Homo sapiens: one gene and its partner. The protein of the gene in region 1 purifies or fractionates together with the protein of each later gene. This does not show direct contact. Each region holds a gene or a part of one and is shown in the gene's direction. Other genes may lie near its edges.

Region 1 (3,500 bases):
AGTGAAAAGTCACAGCACAGTGAGATATGGCCAGGAGGGTGGCGAGCAGCCAGACGTGGGGACGTGACTAACACCTGCATTGTGGGGTGAGCTGAAGCATGGGGCACCCAGGGCTCTGGTCTCAAACCCTTTCTCATTTGTCTGCACTCACTTTTCTGATCTGTTCTTTCTTTCCTTTTTTTTTTTTATTTAATCATCTGTTTTTAAGACCTTCTCTGCCCTGAGGACCCCTAACTATATCCTTCTGCCAGAGCTTTCCCCTGCTTCTCCATATCTCCATGTGGATGTCTAATCCAACGTCAGGATGTCTGAAATTGAGGGTCAGGTATCCACCCCAAAGCCTGCTGTGCTGTCTCGCCCATCTCAGCACACAACAGCTCTGACTTCCGCTGGCTCAGGCCCCAAACTGCGAACCACCCCTTGTTCTTCTCTTTCTCTCACATCCTAGGTTCCTACAGTTGACAGATCTTGGTGGCTGGGCCTTCCCCCCCACTCCCCTCTCTGCCCGGATGCAGTCACCACTGGTGCTGCAGCAGCCTGGCTTCACTGGCCTCCTTGCCCCACCCTTGACCCAGCCCTGCACCATCCATGGGCTGTTCTCAGCACATCCATCAAGGTAACCCTGTTGATGTAAGTCACATCATGTGATTTGTCTGCTCAAAGCCCTCTCATGGTTCTCCACCTTTCTTCAAGTAAAAGATGGGATCCTTATGGATTGCCTGGAAGGCCCAACATGACCTGCACCCCGCCAGCTCCCAGCCCCTTCTCCTCTCACTCCCCTCTGCTCTCTTACTCTGCCCCAGCCATACTGGCCTTTTTTCTGGGCCCCAGCTGTGTCCTCTGCCTGGCATATCTTCCCTCACAGGCCTCATGGCTCACTCCAGTGCCTCTTTCAGTCCCCTGCTGCGGGCTTCACTGACCCCGCTCACCCAGCCCCCCCCACAGCACACACCCCACCTAACAAGCCGTGTGTACTCAGGTATCAGTGTATTGTCTGTTTCCCCTATGCAAGCTCCTTGAGGACAGGGGCTGCTGTATCTCCAGCCCCTAGGAGAGCCCCTGGTACATAGAAGGTGTGCACTAATTATCTGTTAAATGAATGACCTGGACAAAGTATTGTCCAGGAGAAAGGGGGGCACTGAGGGAGGGGTACATACACAGGGCTATGAAGGTATGAGAGAATGGCCATCTTGCAGTGCTGGGGCTCAGGAGAGGAGGGGAGCTGAGAGCACAGGTACTTGGTGTCAGGTTTTGGGGAGTCTGGGAAGAATTTTTGGCCAGGGAGTGACTGAATCCGATTTGCATGATACACATTTGCCTCTGCCAGGAGCCTGGAGAAGGATTAGCGCAGGCGGGGCCAGGGTGCAGCTGGGAGAGCAGGCTAGCATGGAGGAAGGCCGAGGACCTGCATGGAAGTTTCTGGAAAGCAGACCCACTCCTCATCTCGGAAGCTACCTTCTCAGCAACTGTGGCTTTTCGCTGCCTCCCTTCATCATCGGCACTCCCCACACACATTTCTTACACCTCACTTCTCCCTGAAGCCACAGTAGAGACAACCACCCTACCTGCCACAGTCAGTGACCGTTTCTCAGTCACCACCACCCCGCTCTGAGGACACATGGACACTACTTACTGAAACGTTTCTCCTTTAGCTGTACTGCCCTTGCTTCTCTGCTGTTTGTCCTCATCCCTTACTTCCAAAAGTTCTGGCCTTGACCCTTTTCTCTCCCCTCCTTGGTGATCACACTGTCTCCTGCAGCATCGCCCTCTGTCACCTGACATAGGTCCCTCAAATGTCCACCCAGGACTCCCTCTGGAGTGCTGCACCACAGTTCCAACTCTTTGTTGGTTGACAGAGAAACTCAGACTTATGTGCTCCCACCCCAGCCCCTACACCCTCACCCCACCTCCCTAAACTCATTCTTTCTTTCTTTTTTGAAACAGAGTCTTGCTCTGTCACCTAGGCCAGAGTGCGCTGGCATGATCTCAGCTCACTGCAACCTCCGCCTCCCGGATTCAAGCGATTCTCCTGCCTCAGCCTCTTGAGTAGCTGGGATTACAGGCAGACGCCACCATGCCTGGCTAGTTTTTGTATTTTTAGTATAGACAGGGTTTTGCCATGTTGGCCAGGCTGGTCTCGAACTCCTAACCTCAGGTGATCCACCCGCCTTGGCCTCCCAAAGTGCTGGGATAACAGGCATGAGCCACTGCGCCTGGCCCCCAAACTCCTTCTGTTGACTTCACAGTTTCTATCCAGGGCAGCATGTTTTTTTCTTTCACCCAGGCTCAGAGCGTGACAGTCGGCCCTGGCTCCTCCCTCTGCTGTGTTCCTCCCAGCCCCAGCCATGTCGGCTCCCCTTTCTATCCTTAGCCACCAGCCAGATCCTACGTTTGTTACTTTAAGTTTGGACCACTGAGTGCTCCCTCCTGAATGTTGCCACAGCCAAGCCTCCTAGAGCTGATCAGCGTGATCTCTCCCGCTCTAAAAGTTTGTAACAAATCATCAGTGTTGCTGACTTGCTCAGAAGCCTTTAGTGGCTCTCCATGTCACAAAGGTCCAAACTTCCCACTCAATCATTACATTCCTCTGTAACCTTGCCACAGTCTGCTTTTCCAGCCTTTATTACCAACTGTATTAGTTTATTTTCATAGTGCTATGAAGAAATACCCGAGACTGGGTAATTTATAAAGAAAAAGAGGCTTAATGGACTCACAGTTCCACATGGCTGTGGAGCCCTCACAATCATGGCAGAAGGTGAAGGAGAAGCAAAGGCACGTCTTACATGGTGGCAGGCAAGAGAGTGCGTGCAGGGGAACTGCCCTTTATAAAACCATCAGATCTCATGAGATTTATTCACTATCACAAAAAAAGCATGGGAAAGACCCGCCCCCATGATTCAATTACCTCCAACTGGGTCCCTCCCATGACACATGGGGATTATGGGAGCTACAATTCAAGATGAGATTTGGGTGGAGACACAGCCAAACCATATCACGAACGAAAGCTCCAAACTGCAAACTGGTGTCTCCTGGTCACTGAGAATCTTACTCCCTTCCCTACTTAAAACTCTTGACATTCTCTAAAAGCCTGGATTAAAAGCCCCCTCCCCTGGGAAGCCTGCTCTGATTGCTGGACCTCAAAGCGCTCCCTCCCTTCTCTGAAGCTACCGTGTGCTCTGAGCCTCTCCCATACCAGGCTTGTCCTGTTTGAACTGGTCACCTCCAGGTGCTGTAGGAAGACTTTCCTGGGCTCATCAGTGCTTATGACTCAATCTCCAGTAGTTTTTTTTTTGGAATAGAAGGGGCTCTGGAAGTATTTCTTTAATTAATAATAACTTAATTTCCTAAGTGGAACCCTTATTTCTCTCCTTTTATACCCTTTTTATGTGTTTTTTTGTGACCATAGTGCCCCCTTGTGGAGAAATGTTCACAGGACAGGCTGTGGCTGTGCTAATCCGCTGTGCCCAGTTTTCTGGACTGTTGAAAATATGTGCTTGAGA
Region 2 (4,053 bases), on another chromosome or scaffold:
TAAACTTAATGCTGGGCAGGAAAGAAGTATTCAAGGCCAGGTAAAATGAAGAAATATAACCAAATAAATGAAATTTTAAAATTAGTAGAATGAGACAGAAATACTTTTTAAAGTTTTTAATTTCTGATGAATATCAGTATATAAAACTAACAATTATATGGCCGTTAATTGACTAAAAACAGTACTTTAGATTTCAGCTAGTGAAACAGCCATATATGATCTTCTAATTCCATTTTTATGTCTCAAGAATGACTTGTTTAAATAATTTTTTTTGAATTGTTACATTTTCATCTTGAAAGAGCTTCACAAAACTTACATGAGAATCTGGATTGTCATAAGAGGTCTGAGTTTTTAATGGTATGTTCGTATTTCTGTTATGTACATCGATGTCAAACATTCATTTCCTGAGCTGTTCTCCAGAACACAATTTGACTTGTAATGAACACTCAATAAATGGTTGCTTGGATAATCAAATCAACACCTTAGTTTCATCAATTTTCATTTCATATAAAAGTGACTGATCTTCCATACTCACCAATGAAACAGAGAGAGATGAGGGAGGGATAGCAGTGGAGACTAAGAGGATGACAAGCAGACCTCATTTTGCAGTGGATATCCTACACTCTCCACTTCTGAATGCTTGGAAACACTTGCCATACTCAAAAAACATTGCTATTTCCTAGGCAGAAAATGGGAGTTAAAGAAAATCCATATTTCTATATTACAATAACTTACACTATAATACATGGACGACATACATTTCTAAGCTCTTCAGTTCATAGAAAATGTAGATACATTTAGGTGAGCAAGATGCAGGAGAAGGGTTAATAATCAGGCTGAGTGTGATTGTGAGATTCAGTCTAATACAAGTCTTGGGTAATTGTATCAGTTGACATTTCTGTTCAAATGCAAGGTGGGAGAGTTTTGCAGGAGCTACTGAAACTTCCTGCCTGATGTTAGGAGAGATGTTGGTCCATGTGATTAGGCCAGATGTGTTTGCTTAATTGTGGCTTAGAAAAGTTAGGTTTCTGACCTCTCACAGAGACGGGGAGATAGGGACGTTAAATTTTATAACATTTCTATTTAATATATATTTAATAATACATAATAAAGTTTTTAAAATGTCAATTTTGTCCTTTTTCTAGTTTGCATTATTTTGTTTTCACCGCACCATTGTTTTTAGTACATATGTTTTGTGTATTTAAAAAACTGTGTTGAGGCGCCCTGGCTCGCCCTGCGCCAGAGGCTCGCGCACTCAGCAGGTTGGGCTGCGGCGGCGGCGGCTGGGGAAGCCGAAGCGCCGCGCGTGAGAGATCCCGGATACATCTGCGGTTTGGGCTCCGCCACCCTCCGTCTCTCTCCCGCAGGTCTCTGAGCCGGGTGCGGAAGGAGGGAACGGCCCTAGCCTTGGGAAGCCAAAGCACACCCCTGGCTCCTGCCGACACCGCCCTCCTTCCCTTCCCAGCCGCGGGCCTCGCTCCGTGCTCGGCTACTCTGCCGGGAGGCGGCGGCGGCTGCCAGTCTGTGGCGAGCCCTGCTGCCCTCCAGCCGGGCTCCTCCAGCCGGGCTCCTCCACCGGCCCTTGCAGGGGCGCAGAGAGCTCGGCGCCCGCCCTTCCGCTCGCCTTTTTCGTCAGCCGGCTGGAGGAGCATCGGTCCGGGAGGTCTCTGGGCTGAGGCGGCGACAGCTCCTCTAGTTCCACCATGTCCGCGGGCGGAGACTTCGGGAATCCGCTGAGGAAATTCAAGCTGGTGTTCCTGGGGGAGCAAAGCGTTGCAAAGACATCTTTGATCACCAGATTCAGGTATGACAGTTTTGACAACACCTATCAGGCAATAATTGGCATTGACTTTTTATCAAAAACTATGTACTTGGAGGATGGAACAATCGGGCTTCGGCTGTGGGATACGGCGGGTCAGGAACGTCTCCGTAGCCTCATTCCCAGGTACATCCGTGATTCTGCTGCAGCTGTAGTAGTTTACGATATCACAAATGTTAACTCATTCCAGCAAACTACAAAGTGGATTGATGATGTCAGAACAGAAAGAGGAAGTGATGTTATCATCACGCTAGTAGGAAATAGAACAGATCTTGCTGACAAGAGGCAAGTGTCAGTTGAGGAGGGAGAGAGGAAAGCCAAAGGGCTGAATGTTACGTTTATTGAAACTAGGGCAAAAGCTGGATACAATGTAAAGCAGCTCTTTCGACGTGTAGCAGCAGCTTTGCCGGGAATGGAAAGCACACAGGACGGAAGCAGAGAAGACATGAGTGACATAAAACTGGAAAAGCCTCAGGAGCAAACAGTCAGCGAAGGGGGTTGTTCCTGCTACTCTCCCATGTCATCTTCAACCCTTCCTCAGAAGCCCCCTTACTCTTTCATTGACTGCAGTGTGAATATTGGCTTGAACCTTTTCCCTTCATTAATAACGTTTTGCAATTCATCATTGCTGCCTGTCTCGTGGAGGTGATCTATTAGCTTCACAAGCACAAAAAAAGTCAGCGTCTTCATTATTTATATTTTACAAAAAGCCAAATTATTTCAGCATATTCCGGTGATAACTTTAAAAATTAGATACATTTTCTTAACATTTTTTTCTTTTTTAATGTTATGATAATGTACTTCAAAATGATGGAAATCTCAACAGTATGAGTATGGCTTGGTTAACGAGCAGTATGTTCACAGCCTGCTTTATCTCTCCTTGCTCTTCTCACCTCTCCCTTACCCCGTTCCCTATTTCCGTGTTCTTACCTAGCCTCCCCCCACTTCCTCAAAACAAACAAGAGATGGCAAAGCAGCAGTCCGACCAAGCCCACTGGAATTATCCTTTAATTTTACAGATACCACTTGCTGTAGGCTGTGGACCAAGATGTCCAGAATTATTCTTGAGCACTGATGTAAATTACTTAGATCTTCTTTGAGGTCAGAATTCAGCGATCACGGTAGGCAGTGCTTGAATGAGAAAAGCCTCCTGGTGCATCTTCAAAATGAGTCCTAAAGAACATACTGAGTACTTATAAGTAGCAGAACATAAAATGTATTTCTGACTAACACAAATGGTCCTTTCACATGTGCTTTATTAGACTCTGGGAGAGAAAAGTAACCAAGTGCTTCAGAACAGGTTTTTAGTATTTACTTCTTCATGGTAAGATAATGAAGTTCTAATGAACTATTTCTCCCAAGGTTTTAAAATTGTCAAGAGTTATTCTGTTTGTTTAAAAAGTAAGAAACCTCTGTAAGCAATAGATTTTGCTTGGGTTTTCTTTCTTAAAAAAATAATACTATGCAGGCAAGACACCATAAAAGTTTAATTCCTTACAGAAGAACCAGTGGAAGAATTTAAATTTGGCACTACGATCAAAACTACTGAATTAGCAGAAATAACGATATCTAAAGCTTACCAGCAAAAGAACCCTCAGCAGAATAGCAAAAACTTTGCTCAGGACATTTGAGGTCAAATTGAAGACGGAAGACGGAAGACGGAAACCGGAAACCGTTTTCTTGTAAGCCCCTAGAGGCAGATCAGGTAAAGCATACATAGTAGAGGGAAAGGAGAGAATGGAAATAAAACTGAATATTATGCAGATTTATGCCTTATTTTTTAGCATTTTTTAAGGTTGGGTCTTTCAGGCTGGTTTTGGTTTGTATTAGATCTGTATAGTTTAACTAGTGATTTAGTTTTATATTTAAGCTACGATTAATATTTTTTCTTTGGCGATATTTCTTTGCTTTTTTTTTTTTTAACAACTTTCCATTTTTAGATGTTTCGTTGAATCTATTTAGAGCTTCACCATGGCAATATGTATTTCCCTTAAAACACTGCAAACAAATATACTAGGAGTGTGCCCTTTTAATCTTTACTAGTTATTGTGAGATTGCTGTGTAAGCTAATAAACACATTTGTAAATACATTGTTTGCAGGAAGAAAACTTCGAGTTACAGGTCAGGAAAAGCCTGCTGAATTTATGTTGTAAACGTTACTTAACACAGTATAAAGATGAAAAGACAACAAAAGTATCTTCATACTTCCTCATCCCCTCATTGCAACAAAACCT

The links. The genes of interacting proteins can lie anywhere in the genome.
Region 2: the proteins of MTARC1 (region 1) and RAB6C fractionate together in Homo sapiens (co-fractionation; one large-scale study listed by BioGRID). This does not show direct contact.

What each region holds. Positions count from the first base shown.
Region 1 is NC_000001.11:220,800,413-220,803,912, forward strand, and holds part of MTARC1 (mitochondrial amidoxime-reducing component 1 precursor), read left to right. Parts: intron 1-3,500. UniProt on the Homo sapiens protein: Catalyzes the reduction of N-oxygenated molecules, acting as a counterpart of cytochrome P450 and flavin-containing monooxygenases in metabolic cycles.
Region 2 is NC_000002.12:129,978,413-129,982,465, forward strand, and holds the start of RAB6C (ras-related protein Rab-6C), read left to right. Parts: upstream 1-1,253; 5' UTR 1,254-1,703; coding exon 1,704-2,468; 3' UTR 2,469-4,053.